Homo sapiens: one gene and its partners. The protein of the gene in region 1 interacts with the protein of each later gene in a pairwise test. Each region holds a gene or a part of one and is shown on either strand. Other genes may lie near its edges. The genes, in order: POF1B, SYT17, KCTD9 and COL8A1.

Region 1 (7,028 bases):
GCATCATCCTGATACCAAAATCTGGCAGAGACAGAACAAAAAAGGAAAATTTCAGGCCAATATCCCTGATGAACGTCGATGCAAAAATCCTCAATAAAATACAGCAAACTGAATCCAGCAGCATATCAAAAAGCTTATCCACCATGATCAAGTCAGCTTCATCGCTGGAATGCAAGGCTGATTCAACATATGCAAATCAATAAACATAATCCATTACATAAACAGAATCAATGACAAAAACCACATGACTATCTCAATAAAGGCAGAAAAGGCCTTTGATAAAATTCAACACCGCTTCATGCTAAAAACTCTCAATAAACTAGGTATTGATGGGATGTATCTCAAAATAATAAGAGCTATTTACGACAAACCAACAGCCAATATCATACTGAATGGACAAAAGCTGGAAGCATTGTCTTTGAAAACCGGCACAAGACAAGGATGCCCTCTCTCACTACTCCTATTCAACATAGTATTGGAAGTTCTGGCCAGGGCAACAAGGCAAGTGAAAGAAATAAAGGGGATTCAAATAGCAAGAGAGGAAGTCAAATTGTCTCTGTTTGCAGACGACATGATTGTATATTTAGAAAACCCCATCGTCTCAACCCAAAATCTCCTTAAGCTGATAAGCAACTTCAGCAAAGTCTCAAGATACAAAATCAATGTGCAAAAGTCACAAACATTCCTATACATCAATAATAGACAAACAGAGGGCCAAATCTTGAGTGAACTCACATTCACAATTGCTACAAAGAGAATAAAATACCTAGGAATATAACTTATAAGGGATGTGAAGGACTTCTTCAAGGAGAGCTACAAACCACTGTTCAAGGAAATAAGAGAGGACACAAACAAATGGAAAAACATTCCATTGTTATGGATAGGAAGAATCGATATCTTGAAAATGGCCATACAGCTGAAAATAATTTATAGATTCAGTGCTAACCCCATCAAGCTACCATTGACTTTCTTCACAGAATTAGAAAAAATACTTTAAATTACATATGGAACCAAAAAAAGAGCCCATATATCCAAGACAATCCTAAGCCAAAAGAACAAAGCTGGAGGCATCATGCTACCTGACTTCAAACTATACTACAAGGCTTCAGTAACAAAAACAGCATGGTACCGGTACCAAAACAGAGAGATAGACCAATGGAACAGAACAGAGGCCTCAGAAATAATGCCACACATTTACAACTATTGGATCTTTGACAAACCTTACAAAAACAAGCAATGGGGAAAAGATTCCCTGTTTAATAAATAATGCTGGGAAAACTGGCTAGCCATATGCTGAAAACTGAAACTGGACCCCTTCCTTACACTTTATACAAAAATTAACTCAAGATGGATTAAAGACTTAAAGGTAAGACCTAAAACCATAAAAACTCTAGAAGAAAACCTAGGCAATACCATTCAGGACATAGGCATGGGGAAGACTTCATGACTAAAACACCAAAAGCAATAGCAACAAAAGCAAAAATTGACAAATGGGATCTAATTAAACTAAAGAGCTTCTGCACAGCAAAAGAAACTATTATCAGAGTGAACAGGCACCCTACAGAATGGGAGAAAATGTTTGCAATCTATCCATCTGACAAAGGGCTAATACCCAGAATCTACAAAGAATTTAAACAAATTTACAAGAATCAAACAAACAACCCCATCAAAAAGTGGCCAAAGGGTATGAACAGACATTTCTCAAAATAAGACATTAATGCAGCCAACAAACATGAAAAAATGCTCATCATCACTGGTCATTAGAGAAATGCAAATCAAAACCACAATGAGATACCATCTCACGTGAGTTAGAATGGCGATCATCAAAAAGTCAGGAAAAAACAGATGCTGGAGTGGATGTGGAGAAATAGGAACGCTTTTAGATTATTGGTGGGAGTGTAAATTAGTTCAACCAGTGTGGCGCTTCCTCAAGGATCTAGAACTAGAAATACCATTTGACTCAGCAATCCCATTACTGGGTATATACCCAAAGATTATAAATCATTCTACTATAAATACACATGCACACATATGTTTATTGCAGCACTATTCACAATAGCAAAGACTTGGAACCAACCCAAATTGCCCATCAATGATAGACTAGATAATGTGGGACATACGCACCATGGAATACTATGCAGCCATTAAAAAGGATGAGTTCATGTCCTTTGCAGGGACATGGATGAAGCTGGAAACCATCATTCGCAGCAAACTGACACAGAAACAGAAAACCACACACCTCATGTTCTCACTCATAAGTGGGAGTTGAACAGTGAGAACACATGGGAACATCACACACTGGGGCCTGTCAGGGGGTGGGGGGCTAGGGGAGGGATAGCATTAGGAGAAATACCTAATGTAGATAGATGACAGGTTGATGGGTGCAGGAAACCACCATGGCACGTGTATACCTATGTAACAAACCTGCACGTTCTGCACATGTATCCCAGAACTTAAAGTATAATAAAAAAAGAAAACTCTAGAAAAGAAGGAAAACTTATTGTATTTACCATATTTTTGCTTACAATGCTATATCTTCCTTCTTAATATTCCAAATTCTTTCTTTTATGATTTTCTTCTCTTTAGACAACTTCTTTTAGCTATTCTTTAAGGGTAGGTCTGCTAGTAACAAATTATTTTCATTTTCCCTCATCTGAAAATGTGAATTTCCCTCCATTCCTAAAGGATAATTTCACTGCATATAGAATTTACAGTTGACAATTATTTTCTTTTAGTACTTAAAAAATAGTATCCTAGTTCCTTCTGGGCTTCATGATTTGTAATGAGAAATCTGTTGTCATTTGAATTGTTATTCCCAATAATTAATGTTTTTCTTGCTGCTTTGAAAATTTTTAGTTTGTCTTTAGTTTTAAGAAGTTTGACTCTGATTTGTCTGGTAATGGATTTCTTTGGGTTTATATTGTTTGGGATATGCTCAGCTTCTTGAATATGTATGTTACCAGGTTTTACTAATTTGGGAAACTTCTCAGCCATAATTTTTTTGAATATTTTTTCAGCTCCATCCTCTTTCTCCTTTCCTTCCAGGACTCTGAACATGAAAGCTAGATATGTGGTGTACACCCACAAACCCTTAAGCTCTGTTTAATTTTTTCTAATCTATTTGTTTCTGATATTCAGATTATATACTTTATTTTATTCTATCTTTAAGTTCATTAATTCTTTCCTCTGTTCTCTCCATTCTGCTTTTTAGCCCACTCCTTGAGAGCTTTGTTGTTTTGGTTTGGTTTTTGTTTCTTTGTCTTGTTACTGTCCTTTTCAGTTCTAAAATTTCCATTTAGGTATTCTTTATGTCTTCTATTTATTTGCTGAGACTTTCTATTTTGTCATTGAGACAATGTGTTTTTACAGTCTCCTTGCAACTTCTTGTTGAAGTATTTATGATGGTTGTTTTATACACTTTATCAGATAATTCTAACATTTCTATTATCTTGATGTTGTCATCAATTAAGTGTTTTTTCTTATTGGTTGAGATTTTTGTTGTTCTTGGAATTATGAGTGATTTTCAATTGACCCTGAACATGTCTGATCTTGTTTGATCTCAGAAGCTAAGCAGGATTGAGCCTGGCTAGTACTTGGATGGGAGACCTGGCCATTTTTATGTTGTGACTCTCTGGGTCTCATTCAAATATTCAAATATCAGAGAAAGTGTGTGCACTACCTATTACTGCCAGCTGGTGGTGGAAGTTGAGGTTCCCCCACTCAGCTTCTCTTGATGCGATAGGGTGAAAGCCCAAGCTCCCTTCACAGTCTCAACTGACATCACAGTGCATGGAATTTCATTTTTGGCCAGTAGGAATGAAAGCACCATTCTTCACTCTGTCTTTTCTGACACCATCCCAGTGAATGGTGTTGTGTACCTCCCTAGAGCCTGACAAGGGGGCAGTCTAAGCTCTCTTCTTGGCCTTTGGTGGTCCGTGTGGAAGTAGAGTTGCAATTTCTTCTGTGGTGTTTGGCTAAGATAGAGTGGTTACTATCTAAAAGTTTTCTGTCCTGCTAGGCTGACCCTTTCATGGTCCTTTGGTTAGAGAGAGAAGGCTTTTCTCAGGACTTTTGTTGTCCATTGATGTAACTAGATCACCAGCTTGCCCAACACTGATCTAATATATGAAGCAAAAAGAAAATCCAGGAACTCACTGCTGTGTCATTTCTCAGGTCCCAAGATTCCTAACCAATCATTTCTCTTTTCACCAATTTGGGTCTTTTTATATTTGTTTTATATATAATGTCCAGGGTTTTTAGCTGCAATTAACAGGAAGGCTAGGGAAAAGTATTTTTTTTCTTTTTTCTTTCTTTTTTTTTTTTGTGAAGCAACAAAAGTAGAGATTTATTGAAAATGAAAGCACACTCCACAGGGTGGGAGTGGGCTGAGCAATTGGCTCAAGTGCACAGTTATATAATTTTATGTGGTTTAAATGTCCTCTAGAGGTTTCCCATTGGTAACTTGGTGTACACTCTATGTAAATGAAGTAGTGGCCCGTTATCAGTCGGATTGGTTGCAGAAAGTGACCAATCAGAGGCTGAAGTTACAAAGTTAAACCTTAAACAACGTCTGATTGGTTGTGGAAAGTATTTTTACTCCATCTTCCCAGAAGCTGAAGTTGTCTGTTTTTTAAACCATTTTTCTTTAAAGAAATAAGAATAATCTAGTAAAAGAGTTTCCCCTCTCTTTAAAATTTGAGATAAGCCAGGTGCAGTGGCTCACACCTGTAATCCCAGCACTTTAGGAGGCCAAGGCTGGTGGATCACTTGAGGTCAGGAGTTCGAGACCAGCCTGGCCAACACAGTGAAATCCGTTCTCTACTCAAAATACAAAAATTCACCAGGTGTGTTGGTGCATACCTGTAGTCCCAGCTACTTGGGAGGCTGAGGTGGAAGAATTGCTTGAACCCAGGGGGCAGAGATTGCAGTGAACTGAGATCATGCCACTACACTCCAGCCTAGGCGACAGAGTGAGACTCTGGTAAAAAAACAAAAACAAAACAAAAAAAACCAAAAATATTTAGATAGCTCTATACTTTAAAGTTAAACTTAATTATAATTATATTCTTCTCACCTCAGGCAAAATTCAGGCAGTTGGCAATACACTTAGGGAGATTCATTTTATTATTTGATTATTGACTGTCTCATCTCTTCTAATCTTTTAAATAAAGAATAATGTAAAAATTAAATTTTGCTGATAGAATTCTACTTTGTGACAAAGATGATACTTTATCATGGAAAAAATAATAAATATTTGTTATAAATACTAGCTATGCTATCTTCAGGAATATTATTTGGATTACTTAAACACACTATTGACAAAATGCCTTATATCACCTTTCTAATTTGCCATATCAAAGTAAAATTATTAATAAGTTTGCTAGTAGGAAAAAAAAAACTTTCACTTATATTGCCTATTTTCAAATGTTAATAAAACTAAACCATTAATCCTTTCTTCCTGCAGATGAGGGGTATGTCTGATAAGTCACTCCGACTAGTGCTGTCCACATTTAGCAACATACGGGAGGAGCTTGGACATCTTCAAAATGATATGACAGTAAGATTTATTTTGATTTTTTCCAAAGCCTTTCTAGTTACTAGCTTCCTAATACAGAAATAAAGATGTCCAGTATATGTTTTTAAAATTTAATATAGCACAATATTATGCTTATTCAGACAAAGCTAAATTATTTTCTTCAAACAGTTAATTGGCATTGAGAGAGGAGAAAAGAGGTATCCAAAGTATAAATGAAAGAATGTTGGATGTGCACTTATCATTTAGTTTACCACTAAGGCAATTTAATGCTTAAAGCCAGAGAGTCATCTGCAAAGTTAAAATAATCTGACTCATTGGAGGTAAATTCCCCCTTTTTCATAATTATAAAGCATACTCTGAATTTCCATTCAAATATAATAACTTGAAAACATTTTTCTCCAAAAAATTAATTTTTTTCCATTTTCTATTTTAATTGGTGTTCTTGGTGCCATCAGCTAGATACATTCAGAATGCTTTCCACACATTGAATAATGCCTTGAGGACTTTGGAGTAGTTTTGTTGTTTCTGGGTTATGATGAACATATTTAGACTCTAATTTAAAAATTTACCACTCGCTGGGATTAACGAGGACTCTTTGTAGATTGGAGGAAAACATTAAAACATTTCAGAGGGTTGTGCTTCATTTCATGTATAGTTAGTCCATCAAAATGTCTCTTTCAATGAAGGTTTTAGAAGTTTCAATCATTTCCTATCCCGTATTTTCTTAACTTTTAAGAATTCTGCTTTATTAAGCAAGTACAAATGAAACAAGTGCTTATTTAAATCTTCCAAGGTAAGCAAGTCTTTGTATTATGTGACTGTTAAGTTTTTGCAATTCTGAATCATAATAAATAATTTATGCTTCTAGTCACTGGAAAATGACAAGATGAGACTTGAGAAAGATTTATCATTCAAAGACACTCAATTAAAAGAGTACGAAGAACTCTTGGCATCAGTGAGAGCAAATAATCACCAGCAGCAGGTAAACTGATGCTTTTATTGGTGTTAATCTACATTGATAGCTTTTCATATGCACAATTACTGGCACATTGGAGTTATGAGATATAATCAAGACAGAATTAAATATGATGGAAAAATTTGTTCATATGAGAATTGAGTGGCTTTGGGTATTTCTAATGGCTGAAAGCCCTCTCAGAAAAACAGATAATCTTATCTATTTTAGATATAAAGTACATATGGGACACAATTATTTGTCTTGTTGGGTGACCAGAATTGTAGAAATACTAAAAATCTAGGTTCATGCATTTATTTAATGTACTAACATGTCAATGAGAAAAGCTGTTGTAGACCTTAATACATGTTTGTGCAATAAATAAATGACTGAAAAAACTCTAGATGAATTCTCTGGATGTCTGAGCAGAGAGAATTCCTAGGAAATTGTAAGTAGTCTCTAAGGATTACCCTCTTCCTGATCTTTACTCCTATGGCTGTCCCAAATTCTTGCTCAGTTACTAGTTGTCATGTAAATAAT
Region 2 (7,121 bases), on another chromosome or scaffold:
AAGTGGTAAGGGAATAGCAACAGCTTGGGAAATAGTCAAAGGCACTTATCACAAACTCTCTAAAGCCAAAACTCAAACCATACACAGAACAAGACCCAAAGGTGCTGAGGGGCCACGCAACAAGCTGAGCCAGGAAGTACTAGAGTCCTAGTCTCACCATCGACTGATCATGTGACTTGGGCAAGACAGGGGGCCTCTCTGAGCCTCGGTTACCTCTTCTTTAGTGGAAAGGCTACTCTATACCTCAAAGGCGTGCTGTTGAGGTGGGACAGGACACTGACTATGCAAATACTTGCGTGCGGTCCAGCTGAAAAATAAAATGCACCCTTTCTGTGATGAGAATTAGGTGATTGTCAAGACCTAGTGGAACCCAGTAGGCACTGGGTATTGTCCCGGCAGGTACAGCAGGGCACAAAACAGCAAAATATTATACCCTCATAGGGCTTGCATGAAAAAGTGCTTTAGAATGTTAGGATAAAGTGATACTTTTTCATAATAATCTATGACCATTTTCTGAATACAGGGAAGCATTTCCTAGACATGTGGTGGTCAAAAGAGGCCATTTATGAAACCAAAGTGAACAGAGACAAGGTCACCTCATGGCCCTGCTGAAAAACAGCCTCCCCAACTTTCTCAAAGCCCAGGTGCAAGATGAGTGTCAAGGAGCAGAGAGAAAGCAAAGAAGATGAAAGAGGGTGCCCTGACATTCCCAGGCATGCTGAGTCTTTCTGGCATTGGGTCTCCTGGGCTCACGTGTTTGACACCGATGGAAGAGAACCAATTCACACCAGAAAGAAAGAGGAAGAAAGACAACCCATGCATTCTAAACAGAGGTTGGCAAACTAAGGCTCGCAGATCAAAACCAGCCCCGCAGCCTGTTTTGCTACAGCCCTTGAGCTAAGAATAATTTGTGAGTTTTTAAAAGGTTGAAAAAAAAAAAAGATGAATGCCTCTTGACTCGTGCAAAGTATACAAAATTCAAATTTTGGTGCCTGCAAATAAAGTTTTATTGGAACACAGCCACGCCCACTCATTTACTACTGTCCATAGCAGTTTTGGTGCTATAGTCAGAGTGGAATAGTTGTGACAGAGACCATGTGAGCCTCCAAGAGAAAAAAAATAGTATCTGGCACTTTACAGGACAACAAAGTTTAACACCTTGTTCTAGAAGGAAAACCAACATCACTGGGTCATCGCCATATGAGATGCTTAACATATCTACCACAGTCCCCTCTTGAGATCCCACCTTGACCCCTAAGCAGCTATGTGGCCTTGGGCAAGTCACTTAATTTCTCTGTGCTGAAGGCGGCCATTAAGAACTCCAGGAGCCGGTAATCATGTTCATTTCTCACTAAATTGCGCACCCAGAGGGGCAGGAACTGTGCTGTTTTCATCACTGTATCCCCAGTGCCAGCACTTAGTAGGCGGTCGCCCAAGTGTTTGTTGGGCGACTACTCAATAGCCCCTGGACAACATTCAGCACACAGTGGGTGGACAGTAATGTGACCTTCATTGAACTTGAAGAGAAACTGGCGATTCCACGAAAGGGAAGCCAATTCAGGGAATCTAAGGCAGGAGATGAATGGAAGAGGCTCCGCCAGGTGACACAGCACAGAGTTCCCGGCAGGCTGAAGCGTCTGAGGACACGATGAGGGGATATGTGACCCAGAGGGGAATGGGAGGACCAGCAGCACCCCCAGCTGTGGCTGAGGGGACAAGATGTGAGCCAAGATGCACCCTGGACGTGGGAGTCTGTAAGCTTCTCTGCCCAGCTCAGAGGCGCCAGCGCCAGAAGCAAGCAGCTCAACGGGTCTCACTGCGGGTCTGCCTGCTTGACCTTGGCGCTGACCTGCGGTCACTTCCCTTCTTGCAGAGGAGAAAGGTCTTTTCACCAAGAAGCCCGGCCCACCCCTCCGCCCCCTCCCCCCAAAAAAGGCTGCTTAGAAATTATTTCAGAATTATTTCAGCCCAAGGATTCTTGGGGGACGTTTCTTCAAGGTGAAGAGGGTCCACATCTCCCAGACCCCAATGCAGCGGAGTAAAGTAACAGGCTCCCTTCTCTTCACCAGCGCGCCTCTGGCCTCTGGGTGTCCCCCACCCCTCAGCACCCAGTGCCCAGGAGAGACGACGTCCTTGTCCCTCCTGGTCGGAACAGCTGCCTCAGGCTCGCTCCGCCGGCCAATTAGCCGGAGCCGTCACCACGGCAACGGCAGCTGGCGGGCCGGGTGGCTGGCGCGCCCCGGGCCGCCCTCCCCACGGCCCCTCCCCTGGGGTGGGGTGCCAAGGAGAGGGAGGGGGCAGGGGAGAAGAAAAGTCCGCCCCACCCCCCATTCCCTCCCCAAGAGGCAAGGGCGCGCGTTGCAGAGTACACATAGGACCCTCCATCCCGGGGTTTGGGGGTCCCCAGTCTCTCCTCCCGGGGCGCACCCCTGTTGCTGCACAGGTTGCCCGCGCACGGGCACCCTTTTTCTCGAAGCAAGTTTGTGGGAGCCTAGCCGTGGGCCCTCCCTTCCGCGCGCTCCCAGCCGGAGGGGGCGCGGCACCCCCTACCCGCACCCCGGACCTTGCCCCCAGCCTCAGCCCTACCTGGATGTACGCCATTTTCGCCCGCGCGCACTCACTCCGGCCCGGGCATGGCGCCGCCACGGCCACTTTGCCCTCGCCAACAGCGGAGGGGGAAGAAAGCAAAGGGGGAAAGGAAGAAAAAGGCAGCCGGTGGCCCCAGACGTGACTGGCGTGGCTGATGAGCGGCGCCCGCCCCTCCGCCGGCCGCCCCGTCCTTGCCTTTCCCTGCGTTCCGGCTCTCGGAATCGGGGCCGCCTCCCCGGTTCGGAGATATCGGGCGCCCAGGGCCCCCGCCTCGGCCTCCCTCGCTGTCCCGTGCTCCCCACCGAGGCGCTCCCCAGGCTGGAATAAGGCCGGGGCGCCTGGGCAAGCAGCCCGGGGCAGCTGCGGGGACTGCAGCGACCCCAGCGCAGGCGGGGCCGGAGACGCCGGGGCCGGAGCGCGCAGGAGGCGGGGGAGGGGATGGGAATGGGGAAGGGGGTGGGAGGGGGCGGTACACAGGTCAGCCCATCCTGCTGGCACGGGGGCTGGCACCTACCGAAAGCAGCGCCCCCGGGGCAGCCGTGGAGCCGAGGGGACACAGTGCAGCCTGCCATGAAGTCTGCAGCAGGGAGGGTCCTTCCCATCCAGCCCTCTCCCCAAACTGGGTTGGAAAAACTTTATTCCCGCCCCACCCGACGCGCCTAGCACGGTTGCGGTGAGGCTTGCAGAGGCTGCGTGGATGGGAGCCTCAAGTTAAGGTGGGCGTAGGGCGTCCCAAACGGAGGTGCTGCGTCCAGGGCTGCAGGGGGCGCGCGGAGAGAGCGGAGCGCCCCTTTACCCTAAACCTGCCGGAGTTGCGCCCTGGACGCAACAGGTCTAGCGCGGGGCGGCCCGGCAGCGCCACCCAGCGTCGTGCCCGGCCTCGTGCGCTCCTCTGCCCACGGGCAGGCGGCCGCCAGCGAGCGTGCGCCCCGGGGCGTGTCCACCGCCGCCCTCCTGCCTGTCCTCGTGGCTGGGGCGCCCTGGACCCAGAGGCCTCCATCAAACCTCCCAGCCCAAGGCCTCTGGCTCTCCACTCAGAGATTCGAGGTGGAACATTGCCCTCCGCTGGATTTCTTATTTTATTTTATTTTATTTTATTTTATTTTATTTTATTTTATTTTATTTTATTTTATTTTATTTTTGACACAGGGTGTCACTCTGTCACCCAGGCTGGAGTGCACTGGGGTAATCTTGGCTCACTGAAACCTCCGCCTCCCAGGTTCAAGGGATTCTCGTGTCTCAGCCTCCCGAGTAGCTGGGACTACAGGCACATGCCACCACGCCCACTAATTTTTGTATTTTTGGTAGAGAAAGGGTTTCACCATGTGGGCCAGGCTGGTCTCGAACTCCTGGCCTCAAGTGATCTGCCTGCCTCGGCCTCCCAAAGTGCTGGGATTAGGGGCGTGAGCCACTGCGCCGGGCCGGTTTTCTTTTTAATATGCCCAGTCATCTCCTGTTGCCGGACACCAGCTTATCAGCATTTTAATTTTAACCTCCCAGTGCCTCTTTTTCCTCAGTAAAAACAGGAGAAAATCTCCACCCTGCCTATCCTCCAGGGCTGATTTGTGGGAATAAATGAGAAAATGAATATGGGAGTAACAAAAGATGGATATTCAGATGCATATATTTTTTGTCTAAAAATCTAGCAGACCTATACATTTTTTAGTATGATATATTTAGTTTGTAGCATATAGCACGTAACGCATATTGAGTGCTTATGATTCTGCAGGCATACACGCCTCAACACTTCACAAGCGTTATTTCATTTCAACCTGCAGTACCTTGATCACTCCTATTAGGTAGCACCTGTCCAGCCAGAGTAGGCACTCAGTAATTGTTTTTGTTGCCTTATTCACTCTGCTTCCTGAGGGAGGTGCTATGATTATCTCCAATTTATGAGGGACTGCAGCCCAGACAGGTAAAGCCTCTATGAAGGCCTGACAGCTGGTAGCCCAGGGCACTGACATTTGAACCCACAAGTCCAGCAGTGAACCCAAAGTGGCCACTCCTAACCACTTTGTGGTATTTATCCACAATCTTTCTCCAGCACTGATGGCAAGGCATGCCAGGTGGGGAGTGAGCCTCACAGAGGAGGATGCCTATTGGAACGGGTGCTCCTTGGGGGCACTTGAGGGAGTTCGAGGAATTTGCTAGGTGTTCCCATAAGTAAAAATAGTTAACCCTTTTTCACCTGAGGTCAGGAGTTCGAGATCAGCCTGGCCAACATGGCGAAACTCCGTCTCTACTAAAAATACAAAAAATAGCCGGGCATGGTGGCAGGTGCCTGTAATCCCAACTACTCAGGAGGCTGAGGCTAGGAGAATCACTTGAACCTGGGAGGCGGAGGTTGCAGTGAGCTGAGATCGTGCCACTGCACTCCAGCCTGGGTGACAGAATGAGATACCATCTCAAAAAAAAAAAGTTAACCCTTTTTGAGGTCTGTGTACCAGGCACTGTTTTCAGCCCTTTACACAAATTTTGATCTTTTAATTCTCTGATTACCATGAGGTAGGCACAAGTACTATCCCACTCTTTAGGTGAGAAAAAAAGAGGCATTAAGAGGTGAAGTTGGCCAGGCATGGTGGCTCATGCCTGTAATCCCAGCACTTTGGGAGGCCAAAGTGGGTGGATCACTTGAGGCCAGGAGTTCAAGACCAGCCTACAAAAAGTTTCTTTACAAAATACAAAAATTAGCCCGGCATTGGTGGCTCACACCTGTAGTCCCAGCTACTTGGGAGACTGAGGCTGGAGAATCGCTTGAGCCCAGGAGATTGAGGCTATAGTGAGCTGAGATCACACCACTGCACTCTAGCCTACATGACAGAGTAAGACCCCATCTCGAAAAAAAAAAAAAGAGATGAAGTCATTTGCCCAAGGCGTGTCATGCCAGGCCACTGTTAACTCCTTTAGGAATAGTACCATGTCCAGGAGGCCAAAAAAGAGACCTAGAGACAGTGAACGAGACACAGGGTTTATTGAGGGAACTTACATACAGGGACAATCCAGTGGCAGCTGGCTGGACAGGAGAACCTCTACTGTTTATATAAAAGCATGCAGTTTATGTAGCATTTTCACTTAGCACCCTCCACCTAGCAACTTCCTTTTGGCCCTTTAACCCAAAACAAAGGGCCTCGATTGTTTATATAAAAAACATGTTTATATAAAAAGCATGCAGTTTATATAGCATTTTCGCTTAGCACCTTCTATCTAAGCAACTTCCTTTTGGCCCTTTAACCAAGGGTTTTGGCTCTTTAACCCAAAACCAAGGGCCTCAATTGCCTGTACAGCCTGCATTCCAAGGGATAGGCAGGGGACCCAGACATCCTTCATAGATAAGGAGTGAATCTCCAGGTTGGCCACTCCCGGATTCCTTAGCTCTGAACTGTGAATACACATTCTTCTTAGACCATAGGGTCGTTCGCAGGGTAAGCTAAGTTCAATTATTGCCGTCAAATGTGTCTGCCCTGCAGGGTGTGTGTGGCTTCCAGGAGCTGGGATTCAAACCTAAACCTGAATCCTTTCCCTAGCCCCTGCACCATGTTGCCTAATAATGCCTGATCTTGGAGGAGGGGGATGACCCCGTCCCCAGAATTTTTTGGTACCTTAATCCCTTATGACCTGAAACTGTCCAAGAATACTAAGCACCTCTCGAGCAAAAGAAGAGGTTATTTAAAATGCGGATAATAGAACCTGCCTCTGGTATTATGAAATGCTTTAAATGTATGCAAAGCACCTGGCAAAATAGGTGTTTGATAAATGCTTGTTGAATGAGCAAATGGGTTGCAACAACAGCTAACATGGACACTTTCAACTCTCAGACAACTGGTTATTATGATTGAGTGTTAAGCCCTTCACATTTGTTTTTGTTTCATCCCTACTGGAGCCTTACAAGGTGGGTACTGTCATGGTCCCCAGTTTACGGGTGAGGAAACTGAAATCCTGAGACGAGAAGCAAAGTGAGTTGCCCAAGGTAAACAGGTGACAAGAGACAGGGACAGGACAAAAATGCAGGTCTGGTTAGCAATAAAGTCTCAACTCATCATGGCTGCACCATCGTCAGATGAAAGAATGGACGAGAAATCAGTTTAAGTCCTTCATCAGGGGAGTGTCAATGAGTTCCAGGATCCCACTGCTTTGCAAGCCTCTCCTGCCTTTCACGGGGACATGAAGTCCAGCTTTTCAATGTAACTTGGACTCAGATCAAGGCTGTGCCTGCAAAGCTGGCACCTTTACAGATCTCAATGAAGAAGGCCCCAATCAGGGAGGTAGACAAATGCATGGAATTATATGTGACCTGTGGTGTGATAAAGGGAGGCTCAGGGGACTGTGGGGTTACAGGTGAGGGGCCCCAACCTCGTGTGATGAAGGATCACAGAAGGTTTCCCAGAGGGGCTGACATTAAGCTGAGTCCCAAAGAACCAAAGATGGGGAGTGGGGCTTATTTGGAAGGTCCATGAACTTAGAAAGAAAAAAAGTTGCATCACCATTGTCACCAACCTCCTTCTGAAATTTAGTGTTTCCTTCCATTATGA
Region 3 (7,028 bases), on another chromosome or scaffold:
CTTATAGATAATGAAAACATGCCAGAAATACCCACAAAATAGATCAAAATTATAATCTAATATTCCAAAACATGCTAAAAGAAGTTTATACAAGGTATAAAACAACAATATAAACCAGGATTTAAAAATTCAGAAATGAGTAGCAAGAACTCCCAAGAGAATTAGAAATAAAAGAAAAATGATTTTTAAAGACTAAAGCAAAAGAAATACAAGAGTGATTAAACACAATAGACAATGACTTAAGGGAAAGAAAAGGTAAAAAAGAGAATAGCTTGAAAAATTAAAAAGAAATGGTCAGACGTGGTGGCTCATGCCTATAATCCTCTGGGAGGCCGAGGCGGGTGGATTGCTTGAGCTCAGGAGTTCGAGACCAGCCTGGGCAACAGGGCAAAACCCCAAAACCCCATCTCTACAAAAAATACAAAAAAATTATCCGGGCATGGTAGCACACATCTGCAGTCCCAGCTCCTGGTTGGGGGCTGAGGCAGGAGGATCACTTGAACCCAGGAGGTTGAAGCTGTAGTGAGCCAAGATCATACCACTGCACTACAGCCTGAGTGATGAAGTGAGGCCCTGTCTCAAAAAAATAAATAAAATAAAAAGAAAGGAAAAGAAAGTTTCAAACATAAAAGACAAGTGTAAAAGATCCACCCTACATACAATAGAGTCCTGAAAGAAGGAAATCAAATCAAAGTGAACAAAATAAAAATGTCAACTTCAAGAGAACTGTACTGAAATTTTAAAATACATACACTTGAAACTATATATTGAAAGGATCCATCACATACTGAGAAAACCAATCCAGAACAACTCAGAACACCAATAAATATTCTACTAAAATTACTGTACTTTAAAGAAAGAGAAATATCCTTTGGGTGATCTATGAAAAATAATCACATAAGAAAGATCAGATTTTTTGAGACCAACACCTCAGGCCAGAATAAAATGCAGTAACATATTTAAGATATTCAAAGAAAAATAATGTGAACCAAGGATTTTTCAATAGCTTCACTGAGGTATAATTAACACAGAACAAGTTACACATACTAAAGTTTATAATTTAATAAGCTTTGACATATAATTTTATACCAAAATTATATAAAGATGGTGGATGGCAATGGCATCTTGCCATTGGAAGATGTCACCGAATATTGTTCTCATAGTATCTTGGAGAGAAATCTACTAGAGAACAAGTTTCAGATAAACACTGGAAACATAACAAAAGGACTGGAGGTAAGTGTACGCTTGAAGAAGTAAAACTAAATGAGTGTATAAAGGGAGACACTATAATATACAATGGCTATATGTTCCGACAATTCAGAAACAATACAATTATTTTTAAGTAAGGGGAGAAGGGATTTAGCATATGAAAAACATTTAACTGTTTTTAGTAATTATATTGGTACTGAAAGTATTGAGTTTGTTACTCTGACATTTTTAGATGTGTTCTGTATGGGGTAAAGTAAATGAGTAATTATGTGACATTATAATTCTATTAGTCTCCATGTCCCTGAAAGTCAGGACTATTGATATAGAAAAAGGAGACACAGATGTAAGACAGAAGAGGATAAGTAAAAACCTTATAATCCTTAATATAAACTTTAAGTACTACTATGAAGCCATGAGTTATTTCATCTATCCATATTTTGTTATATATGACATATAAACTTTATATCCTATAACATACATTATATACAAATTTTATCTCTACCTATATATTTTCAATTCTGTCCACCAAAAGGCATAGCAACAATAATGAACCCAATAGCGAAGAGCCTCCCTAGCACCCAGATTTGTCTTGGAATGACACTTCCCACTAAAAAAATCAAGGCTTGTTGGAAAAATGTTGATCCAGGTCTGAGACAGGAAAAGGTTTTAAGATGAACACCAGTTATTCCAGATAATAAGAAAGCCATAAAATCCAACAAGGTTTGTTAAAAAGACCCGAAGAGATTTCCAGTGGCAAAAAATTAAGACCATCTGAACATCAATAAATGCAGAGGATGAAAATATACCAAATATTTTTAAATCCATGAGTTAATAACAATAAAAAAACCTTAATTGATCATTTTTTATTGTGTTTGTATGCAGTGGACCAATTAAGTGACCATTGCCTGCCAGTCACTGTTAGGCCAATGGATAAAAGAAGATGAGAAGTTCTTGCTTACAGTTTTAAGGTAGAGACAGACAGACAAGAGTATGCACTTACTTCTAAGTTGACAATTGCCTGTGCAACAATCGTGAGAACTACTTCCACTCACCAAATGCAATTAGTATGATGCTTTAAAAAATACTTAAATATTCAGAGTGTGGACTGTATGGATCTAAATAAATCAAATACTTTATCTTCCTTTCGGCCTTTTCTTTTGAGATATACAACTATAAGCTTTCTTCCAAATCAAAGGGTAGTGTGTGTGCACACCTGTGTGTGTGGTTGATACCAAGTCATTTTTTGGCTGATCTGATCACTGTGAAATACTGTCAAACACTACTTACGCAAGCAATATTTACTCACAAATATGTAATACAACACGTAGAAAAATTTTGACATTCACCATCAAAGAAAAAATTTTCAAACAAAACAATTGTTTCTAAGATCAAAACTACCTTACTATGTTACAGTTAATGAATATGTATACCTCCAGAGCATTTTAACGGCATGTAAAACATGCATCTATAATAAACTACGATCATATAGTAAAAAATTTACTTTAACATACCCAATGCAGAATCAAAAAGTGTGAAGATTTGAATACAGCCATAAGATCATTTTTAATGTTTAAGCTTAATAGCCCCATTTAAAATAATTGTCATTCCATCTTTTTTTTTTTTTTTTGGCAGATAAAATTGGCTTTTAAAGTCACTTACCAATAAATGGCTCTCCTTCACAAACAAACAAAACATCATCATCCCTGGGGAAATCAAAATTTAAAAAGCTACCATCAAAATCTAAAAATCACATTAATTATCTGTTGCTTATAGGAACTATTCCTTACAATTATATAGACAATAGGTTTTGCTATCAATCTAGACTGCAAAGAAGCTAAGTTTCCAATGCTTTGTTTAACCCCTTGAACTTAACTGTCTTTGAATTTAAATTCAAAAATAAGATCTTGCACATGAAAGTACTTTTGAAATGTGGGGAAAAAAATCTCCTTACACAAACGATGTTGAGTTCAGCTTTCTTATCAATTGAGAATGAATAATTATGCTGAAAGGATAGATTAAAGTCACAGCCAACTATTCTTTTTTTCTTTACATTTTTTACCCCTAAATCATCAGCTGTTGTGTGCTTTGGAGATGAAATAAACTGTCATATTAAATCTAGGAAAAATATAGCTGGAAGTAACTCTACTGTCAGTGTTTACCCACTACACATCCACCATACACCCAAATGTAAATGGCTGCACATAACCCAGAGTTCTGGACAATCAGTGCACATCCTCTTCCTCAACCCATTACCCCAGATACTGTATTGTGAACCAAAAATGAATAAACAGATATCTTATAGCTCAGAAGGCTTCAATTATAACCTTCCATTGTAGACGTTTTTATTTCCTATAGGACATCACAGGACACGTTAAATTTTTCTAAGAAGCAGAGTTCGTGTTTGTTAAGAAGAAAGTTAGGTTGATGAGGATCATCATCCAACAATGTGACTCAGTTTTCCTTAGAAACTGAAAGAAGCTGGGAGATACATATTGAAAAACTAAGAAGTTATCCTAATTTATTTGGATTTAAAATGTAGTGTATAGTATTTCCTACTTGTTCACCATGCCAGTTTACTTTTTCAGATTAGTATAAAAATCTGTTTTCATTAACAAAACCCAACTAGCTGTATGACCTGAGTGAGTCCTCAGCTTCACAGGTAATTCGTTTCCTCATCTGTAAAATGAAGGGTCTAGAACTGATTAACTGCAAAGCAGTATATTATACTGAAAGGTCATTTTGATCTAGATTTATACAGAGACTTTGTATATCATTATAGGTTAAAGCATCATTATCTTCACATCACTGATAAAAAAAACTCATGTTTTGCCAATTAAATGGTATAACTCAGGCAAAGCAATGATAACATAAGTGGCATAGTCAATACTTAATTTGTGTTCCCTTTACCATCTTCTTTGTTAAGCATCTTCCTGCTCCAAAATTCTCTGACCTCATGAAGATGAAGTAAGGTGAACTACACACTTGTTTTAAAGAGATAAATCTGCCTGAGATATTTAAGGTACAAACATAAGCCTATAATTATGGTGGATCACTGGTGATATCACTACTTAGAATTCTATCATATTTATAAAGTTTTTACAAAATCTGGCCTTTGTAATGATTATAAAATGCAAAGCATTCTTAGGAAATGATTAACAAGCAGGCGCATATAAAAGTGAAGAGATGAATTAGATTTTTAATGTTAAAAACTGCACGTCTTACTAGATCCTTCTCTAGTACCACAAAGAAGAAATTCCTCATAGCTATATATGAACTATGCAGAAAGACTATCAGTATACTGAAATGTACTAAGGGTTTTCTAGCTGATCAATTCACCTTAAGCCCAAATGATTTAAATTCCAAAGAGCAAATTCTAGGTAAACACTTGCCAAAATCCTGTACTCTTAACAGTGATTAAATTACTGCTTAAGGGAAACAGCATAGCACCAAGAAGTTGAGGCACACTGTTGACAGCTTATAAAAAGGTGAAGGTTACCTGATCAAAGCAATATCATCAATCAGTCCACCTTTCCCATTATACACACTGGTGGCTTTTATGCCGAGTTTACTGCTGGCCACAGAAAGCAAATCAGATAAAGTTCCATATACAGCAACCACCTGTAAACACACCAGAATAATATGAACAATTTCTTTAATACATGTTATCCCCCATAAGTTATAAACTACCACACTAGAACAGTGCTAAAAAGATTATCATATAAAAGGAGACTTCAAAAGGTTCTTAACAGTGCCCCCTTTTCTTCCATGACTCATTTATTCACTTGGTGCCTAATATTGCCGACTCCTCAACTAGAACATAAGAAATCATCTCTGACCAAAACAATCTACAATCCTAAGGTGTGTTAAATAGCGCTCCAGTTGTGAAGTAAGATAGACCTACACTTCGATCTAGAGTCTGACATTTTCTAGCTGTCAACTTGAGTCAACCTACTGATGCTTCTGTTGCTTTAACTAGAAATGAAGAAAATAGTAGCACCTACTTCAGAAGGTATTATGAAATGAGTTCATGCATAAGAGCTTAGCAAAGTGCCTGAGACCTAGTAAGTCCCTATTATGTTGTCCTTTTATTATTTATTTATTTGAATGGTTCATCCTTAGAACAGGAGTGTGCTGGTACTGTTTATTATATCATTAACGACATCAACTACCACAGAAAAGATAACTTCTCACCTCATTTATTTAATTCTTCACTAACTAAGCCAGATTTTAGCATCTAACATTTAAGAACAGAGCAAACAGCTGGGTGACAATGAATTGATGTGTCCTGCTGTGAATCAAGCAGTCTGATATATGTGCAAGATACATGCAACTGTCTAAGCAGGGTGCTGAGAATTTCTACATGTAAGTGAATTTTGTGCCCTGGTCCTAACTGTAACTATGGGTTCCCAGCGACTGAGTTGTGCAGTTGCACCATTATCAGTTATGACCTCTGAAAGTTAGGAATAAAAACTAGGTAAGGGTCGGGCGCAGTGGTTCATGCCTGTAATCCCAGCACTTTGTGAGGCTGAGACGGGCAGAGCACTTAAGGCCTGGAGTTTGAGACCAGCCAGACCAACATGGAGAAACCCCATCCCTACTAAAATACAAAAATCAGCCAGGTGTGGTGGTGTATGCCTGTAGCTACTCCAGAGGCTGAAGCATGAGAATTGCTTGAACCCAGGAGGCAGAGGTTGCAGTGAGCCAAGGTTGCACCACTGCACTCCAGCCTTTATGACCAAGCAAGGCTCTGTCTCCCCGCTAAAAAAAGAAAAATAAGTAGGTGAAGAGCTAAACACGAAGCACAGTCAGCTAGCTCATGGACGTCCCAAGATTTATTATGTCAAGATGCCATATGAAGTGAGCACTAAGGCTGGTCCTCTGTCCACCAGTGACTGGAATAGAGTGGACAGTTTCTAGTTAAATAAATACAGTAAATGGAGGACATGGAAAAAGCTGCTCGATAACATACGAGTGTGCAGTTTTTCAAAAGCAGAGTACTCAGATTCTAACTTTTTTCTCTTGGATCAGAAGGATGAAAGCCAGAAGAGTGCTGGGGCATTTTGGAAAGTGTTGAAGGCAAGAAAAATTTAAGCGGAACCAAGTGCATTATAAAAAATAATGTACAACCCAAGTGTCCATAAGCAGGTAATTGCATAAATAAAATATGGTATATATATACAATGGAATATTATTCAGCAATAAGAAACAATGAGGCCAGGTACAATGGCTCATGCCTGTAATCCCAGCACTTTGAGAGGCTGTGGCAGGTGGATCGCTTGAGCCCAGGAGTTCGAGACCTGCCTGGCCAACATGGTGAAACATGGTCTCTACAAAAAAATACAAAAAGTAGCCAAGCATGGAGGCACATGCCTGTAGTCTTAGCTGCTTGGGAGGCCGAGATGGGAGGATCACTTGAGCCTGCCAATTCAAGGCTGCAGTGAGCCAAGATCACGCCACTGCACTCCAGCCTGGACATGATGGGACGGAAAAGAAAAAAGGAAAGGAAAAAGAAAAGAGAAAAGGAAAGGAAAGGAAAGAATAAAGAAAAAGGAAAGGAAAGCAAAGCGAGAAGAGAAGAGACATGAATTCTGACACATGCTGCAACATGGATGAACCTTTTTGACAGTATGCTAAATGAAATAAGCCAGTCACAAAAGGATAAATATTCTATGATACCACTCACATGAAAGTACCCAACACAGGCAAATTCATAGAGAAAGAAAGCAGAATAAAGGTTACCAAGGCATAGATGGGAATGGAGACTTATTTCTTAATGGTTACAATTTCTGTTTGGGATGATGACCAAGTACTGGAAATAA
Region 4 (7,028 bases), on another chromosome or scaffold:
TAATGTTGAGTGCTTATTTGTAAGTTAAAAGTTAGAAACAGCAATTTACTCCTTATCCATGGTTACTCACTTTGGTATGGAAACTTGCAGACAGATTGAGACACACCGTATTTCCTAAAACCTCTGGTCCTCCAAGTAACCCTCTGGGAGCTAGGTGTTTCTGCCTTGACCTCCTTCTCTTCAACCAGACCCCTATAAACATACATGTACATAAGTTAAAGAAGGTACAGATCTTGAAACTTGAGTGTATTCTTGTGAAAGGTGCACTGGTCTAACTATTGAGTGAAAAGAAAACCAAAAGGAGAGGAGAGGAGAATTAAGGGGAGAATGAATGCCCTTTGGAATTTAGAGAATCTTTCTTTTTAGCATTGTGTGAAAAGGATATCTCAATCCCTAAAGCATCTGGGAATACACATTTATTTAAAGAACCTGTTCAAAAGTTGTCACAAAATGCTAAGAATATAATGAAGAAGATCTTCCAGTGACCTGGCAGATATTAACAGCAGGTTACACCCCACACTACTAAATTATAGCTCTATTAAACTTCCCCTTTCTAGAGAGATAAGGAGTGAGAAGTATGAGCATTAACCACATTTCAACACAAACAGAGAAAAGCTGCTAATGAGAGATCCCTCTATCACTTTAGTAACTCCATTTGTTGTTTGAGGGAGAAGGTTCTTCATAGTTTTTCCTCAAGCAGATTTGCAGGAATGGGGTTAAAGGGAGTCACACAAGGTTAGAATGTCTACAAGCCTGAAGTCGTGTGTACTCAAATTCATGAAGCCATTGAAATTGCATCAGATCAAACTGAAGTGAATAAAACAAAAAGTGTTCACCAAAACTGATCACAGAGTAATCAATAAAAATAAAAATAATGAATTCTAACTTCTCAATGTAGGATAAGAGCAAAAGCAACAACTTTAGCTGACTATGTAAAATATGAACACACACCTGACAATTCACCTTCGGTGTCCTCTATTTATTTGGGGCTCACTTCCATCGTCCCTCCTGGACAACAAAAACTGACCCTTCTCTCCTTCAGCAAACCTTTCAGGATGTGCAGATGCAGTCATAGTCCCTCTGTGACATTTCCTTTGTTCTTTCCCTGGAAAAAATCTCTTTTTAATTCTCATAGAACAAGTTTCTAAAGAACCACTCATACTTGTGGCTTCTCTCATTACCAAAAATTTCCTCATACTTCTCTTAAATAGGATATAAATTTTCACCCTATCAAATGTAAAAGCTTCACATTTTTCTAAACTTTAATTCACATACCTAGAAGAAAGTAATTTAAAATTGCTACTTGCCTCCAACAGAATATCTGAGATGAGGTTTCAAAGCCATTTTACTTATCCAGTACTTATTATAACTTCTTGGAAATTAAAAAAACTTTAGAGAATCATAAAAGATAAATGCTGGAAAAGACCTTGGAGCTAATTGTAACTAAAAGTTAATTTTACAGGTGCAAAAGATCAGAAAGATTAATGTCTTTCCCCAGGCCACCCAGATGAGTACAGCACACCCAAGGCTGGAGTTCATACAGCCAGTTTCTCCAGCCAGTGCTTAATCTTGAATAACTGCAGTGTGGCTCCTCGTATAATGTGAATCTAAGGTGTCTTTGACTATGCTGAGCATTCCGTAGGCACTTAACATACAGGGCTCTCAGAAACCATAGCTTGGTAGAGGTTTGGACTACAGCTATACCTCTACTACCAAATGTCTAGGACACGTTGACATAAATTCTTGTGAAGAGTGAAGTCAATGGTCATCACCATCACAGGGATGGTATGTTTTTAACCAGCCCAGGATATGGTACATAGTAGCTGCTCAGTAAATCTGTGTTGAGTGGGTGAATGAATGGGGAAAAAAGCTAAGTATAAAATATCCATTTTCCTAAACTCCTTTCTTACTTGTAGAAAATATAGTCTATAAAACTACTTTCTACAAAGTAATGGATTTACAAAGTAAATTTTACTTCGTAGAAAACAGTCTATACAGACATACAGTGACTCAGGTCTCAAATGTATTGAGTTTAAGATTCTCCCTTGCTTTGGGAAATCTAGAAGAGTTCATTTTAGCCTTAGCAATGGCTAAGCCGTTTTCCTGTCTGCAATATTCTCACTAGTTCTTCCCATATTTACTTGAGTTCTAGAAACTGTATTATTTTTTACAGGAGGCTTAAGATCTAGTTCCAATATTCATTTGAGAGAACAAATGAATTAGAATGTGAGATTTACAGCGTAACTCTCCTCTTCCACCCAACAGACAAAGTGTTGCCAATTTAACCATTTTGTACCTTCCTCGGCCTCTAATGAGAGAAAGAGCAAAATACCCATAATGGATAATCAGGAAAAACATTAAGGGACACATCAGTCAGAATGTGTAGGTATGAGATTTGTTGTAACAGAGGGGCAGAGGGGAGAGGTGATCAAGGGACTAAGAGTATAGAGACAAGACAGTGAAGCTAAGAGAGTTTATTCCTCTGAAACAGAGGAGGGAGAATCTCCAAGAGTTTTGAAATGCTACAAGAGATTTTAATAGCATTGTCCAAAACCAGACCCTCTCAAATGCTTGAGAGATGACTTTCTGTTTGAGTCAGGGTTCTTTAAATACAACACTAATTGAAGCCTGGATGACACAGGTGTGAAAGCTTTATAAGTACCATATCTATTAAAACTCTTCTTATCATTTGACTGGCCCTCAAGTGGGAAAGGAACCTCATTTCACCTCCTTTTAGACTTGACTCTGACCCAGGATAATAACTCCATGGATGTCAAGTCATTGAAATGTTCTCTGCTAAAATAACAACACAATTATTGGTAACACATAAAGTCACTCCATCATAGAAAGTGACGAAGGCAGGAAAGAATATTCTTGTATTGTTTCTGTAAACAATTTACCCTGAATAAGCAGACAGATGTTAGCCCAGATGCTTCTTCACTTTCCTCTGAAGCATGCCTGACAATTATTTCCATATCTCCGAAATAGTAAGTGTGTTTCTAAAATCGATCTATTATATGTTAAATTTAACACAGTCTATGGCTAAGCATCACTGTGAAAACATTCTTTTAAGTAAGTCTTTCTTGAAGACTGTCCCTCTTAAGCTTCCAATTGATGTGTTTACATCACAGGATATTTAGGCATTGGATCATTTGATGTGCTGAGACTGAAGACAATCACTTCATGTGCTACTTTTCCAACTCTAACTAAATAGGCCTGGGTGTGGGTGTCAGCTGTCAACTTCTCTAGGAAATAACATGTATCTAGCCTATTGGGGAGCTTCTCTAGTCCCCTCTGTTAGCTAGATAAAACAGCTGCTTTTTGGAAGTCTGGGCCAATGGCCTGCATAATTGAGGCTTTGTGTTCTAAGGCAATTATGGCTAGTTTATGGCAGCAGAGGGGTTAAGTTGCAGCTGCCTTCAGTTCAGTAGGAGGATTTCAAATATTAACAGCTGACCGAAGAGCACTGTGATGGGGCAGGTGGGACGCATTTTCAAGCCAACATCCCATTTAGGATCTTCTTCCAACTAGCATGGTGTCTACACTCTGACGATAAGCCTAAACTTCATTCATAAATTCAGTGATGATTGTACATTATTGTATTTCTTTAATGATCTACTTAGCGATTGCCCAGTCTTAAAGTCCAGGAGTCATGGTGTTCATCAATGCTATCAATCCAAACAAGCGACTTCTTGTTAAATGGCAGACATAAGATTAAAGCCAAAAAGTACATGAAGGAGGGCACTAGGGGGAGCTAAGAATTTGTGAGTTAGGTAGCCAAGATTGTTGAGGTTGGAAGAATGAGGAAAGAAAGGGGATCTGTGGCAAAAATATGCTATTGGATCCACAGTTCTAGTTTAAGGACATGTCTAGTCCCTTTTCCAGCCCCCAGTTAATTACAATCCCCTGCTGCCCAAATGGAGAGGGAGGTTGTTCACCAGTAGAGGGAGCCAGGGGCTGGGTGTCTCAATAGAAACTGATCTGGTCCCAGAAGGGGCCTTTAGATTTAAGTTTTTCGGATCGAAGGCAGAGCAAAGTGTCCCTTACAACCAATGGCTAAAATGTATGCCATTGTAGTAGATCACATTGTTAGTTTTCTTTTTAAAAAAAAAAAAAAAATCCTAATTTAAGCCTCTAAGAATAAATCACCCACATTTCTGGCATTAGCAATGCCTGAAATGTCCGGGCTTGTGGAAGTTTATTTGAAAGAAAACTAAAACAATCTTAGAAAATGTTCTTTCCAAGGCTACCACCAGCCAAGACTGAATCTAAATGCTCAATTCAGTAATAAACAAAGCCTGGCAGCTGGGGGTCAGTGAGAGACAAGCACAAAGACTGAGGAAGCCTGCGGTGACTAGACCCTCCCTGTCAGTGGAGTAAGGGGAAGGGAGCTGGGAGAAAAAAAGACAGAAATGGGCCAAATAGGCTTCTCCACCCAGAGGGTCCAGAACCTGCTCCCCTAAATCTGGGTCTCTCCAGGGAGCAGCCAGGGTCTTGCCTAGACTGAAGTGAATACCTTTCTGTTGAACATTTCCATTGCACAGCTGTGTGGGGATGGCTTGTTAAGACTTGAGACACTTGCATAATTCAGAACCCTTTGGGGGATAGAGATCAATTAGGACCATAAAAAAAATCCTTGGCACACCAGAGGAGAGCTGCTTGCTTAGTAAAAATTATGACATTCACAGCAAAACAGCAATCCTCTAAGATCATTTTTTGTGTCCATAGAGATGAAGCTATGGAGTTGGTGTGCATGTGACTTGTGAATCACCAGAAAATCTTCAGTGTTTTAATTTCAAAAACACCTTGACTCTCTCTGGGGCAAGGGGCGTGTCACTGATCGTCTCTGTGCCTTAATTTATTTATCTTAAGCAGAACAATTTTTAAATAACTACCTTCTTTACCACTTAGAGACATGTGAGGTCCTGTCAAGTATTTTTCAGAAAGATACTAATTAAGCATGCATTTTACGGTTACTAATTTAGTACGGTAAATGGATTATACTTACAATAACTAGGAAGGGCTCAAAGTATTTATACAAAATCAGTCAAAATGGGATAAAATGTCAAGTAGCCACATAACCTTCCAAGATATAGCAAGAGCATTTTTGTTTCTCAGAATACAGAGGTCAATCCCACATATCTCAAAAGGCCAAACAAGATCAAGGGTAAGTGGAAAGTAAAAAAACAAATAATAATTAGAAAATGGCTTAAAGAGTCTTAAAAGGCTTATATTCTTACCAATCTGTATTTTGAGACCAGCCAAAGGGGAATTTCTCACATACAATACAGGGTTTCTGATCTAAAAACTCTATTTTAACTGGAGAAAGATAACTGTTTAATAATGACTTTTGTATAAAATCTCTGCATCCCTTGCTTCAACATTTTCCAAAGTGCATTTCAAAACACTGCTACCTGGGATTCATCAGTGTTTATACAGAAAAAAGTTCTGTGGTCAAATAAGCTTTAGAAACACTCAATGAAACAATATTAAACATTTTTATTCACTGTATGGCTTCACAGAAATTTTTATATGCTATATATATTTTCATCCTTCAAAGATGTTACAATCGAGTGTTCCTTAAACATTTGATGACATATCTACCCTGCCTGAGCGCATCTCCTGGGACTGATATTCTACGGAACAGCTTAAGAATAGTTTAAGAATCACTTCCTGCAGCATTATTTCAAGATCAGTCAGAACATGGTATTTTCAGTCTTGCTAGTTGTTAAGTAATACATACTGAATGTCACTCTAAGATATGTAGAGAGATTTCTAAAACCCAGGGGAAACAGGAACAAAAGAAGCAGATAACATGCCTTTGTTCTATGGCTCAATTCTTTATTACAATAATAGCAAGAATGCCAGAAATATTATTCAAGTCTCTCTCTCTCTCTCTCTCTCTCATATCTTCAACCTCCACTTCTACCCAAAAAATCTTTAGAACACTGGACAAATTGAAGTTGTCTCTTCCTTTCCATCCCACTCTCTGGATACTGTATAGAGAGAAGCGGCCAACAATGAGCAATAAGTTCAATAAACAAGGAGCCTAGATAATTCTTTGAACTAGCTCATCAGTCTCTGAGCTGTTAATTTCCTGCTTTATCTTTACTATCATTAACTAACCAAGATCGTTGGCCAAATATTTTCTTTGAGCATTTGCTTTCTCACCATCAATAGGGAGCTAATTTCTGTAGGAGGAACACACTGATATTCTGGTGTAATTTACTGAATGAGGAATTACTTAGTTTATCTATGACACTCAGACCTCCCACTCCATACAATTTACTATTTCTCTTAGGACATTACTCTGGGAATTATCTTTCCACTTCACAAAGTTAGTGCCTGGAGGTCAGTATCCCGTAAGTGGCACAGTTGAGCACCCTCTGCTTTCAGAAAATAAGTAGCTCATAGTCATCTAAAGGAGAAGGGAGAAATTCAAACACATCATTAATGGTTATAATAATAAAAGCTATTTGTTATCTAACAGGACCAGATATTGTGCTAGTCCCGTTATCTATATTCCCCATGTCAACCCTACAAGAAGGGTGTTATTATTCCCAATTTAACGATGAGAAAAACTAAGCCTCCACTCGTTAAGCAAATTGCCTAGGGCCACACAGCTAGGAAGAGGCAGAGCAGGTTCTTCTATCCAGGTCACAGTCCAAAGTCCATGGTCTTCCTGCCCGCCTGTGCTGCTTCTCATGATGTCTTGTCCTATCATGGAGGAAAAAAATAAAAATAAACTTCCTATGACAACGCCTCTGACTCATAAAGAAAGTGAGAGAATTCTAGTGGCTCTGTTCCTAGACACTGCTTACTGGCTCTGTTTCTTGTTTAATACAGTGATTTTAATTTCTTTTTCTTTTTTGTTTTTTTTAATCTAAAAGCATGCTGTCATTTCAGAGCCAAAAAAGTAAGGACTGTGTAATTAGAAAAGAAAAAACAAACAAACAAAAAACAAAACAAAACAAAAAACATCATTTCTCCCTAGGGTAATTTTTAAGGGCTAAAAGTTAGTCCATAAA

The links.
Region 2: the proteins of POF1B (region 1) and SYT17 interact in binary tests that used the Homo sapiens proteins (3 or more experiments, as listed by UniProt).
Region 3: the proteins of POF1B (region 1) and KCTD9 interact in binary tests that used the Homo sapiens proteins (3 or more experiments, as listed by UniProt).
Region 4: the proteins of POF1B (region 1) and COL8A1 interact in binary tests that used the Homo sapiens proteins (3 or more experiments, as listed by UniProt).

Annotation. Positions count from the first base shown.
Region 1 is NC_000023.11:85,306,653-85,313,680, reverse strand, and holds part of POF1B (protein POF1B), read left to right. Parts: intron 1-5,464; coding exon 5,465-5,557; intron 5,558-6,404; coding exon 6,405-6,518; intron 6,519-7,028. UniProt on the Homo sapiens protein: Plays a key role in the organization of epithelial monolayers by regulating the actin cytoskeleton. May be involved in ovary development.
Region 2 is NC_000016.10:19,164,127-19,171,247, reverse strand, and holds the start of SYT17 (synaptotagmin-17), read right to left. Parts: upstream 3,009-7,121; 5' UTR 2,602-3,008; coding exon 2,587-2,601; intron 1-2,586. UniProt on the Homo sapiens protein: Plays a role in dendrite formation by melanocytes.
Region 3 is NC_000008.11:25,441,424-25,448,451, forward strand, and holds part of KCTD9 (BTB/POZ domain-containing protein KCTD9), read right to left. Parts: intron 4,828-7,028; coding exon 4,706-4,827; intron 2,913-4,705; coding exon 2,869-2,912; intron 1-2,868. UniProt on the Homo sapiens protein: Substrate-specific adapter of a BCR (BTB-CUL3-RBX1) E3 ubiquitin-protein ligase complex, which mediates the ubiquitination of target proteins, leading to their degradation by the proteasome.
Region 4 is NC_000003.12:99,641,594-99,648,621, forward strand, and holds part of COL8A1 (collagen alpha-1(VIII) chain precursor), read left to right. Parts: intron 1-7,028. UniProt on the Homo sapiens protein: Macromolecular component of the subendothelium. Major component of the Descemet's membrane (basement membrane) of corneal endothelial cells. Also a component of the endothelia of blood vessels.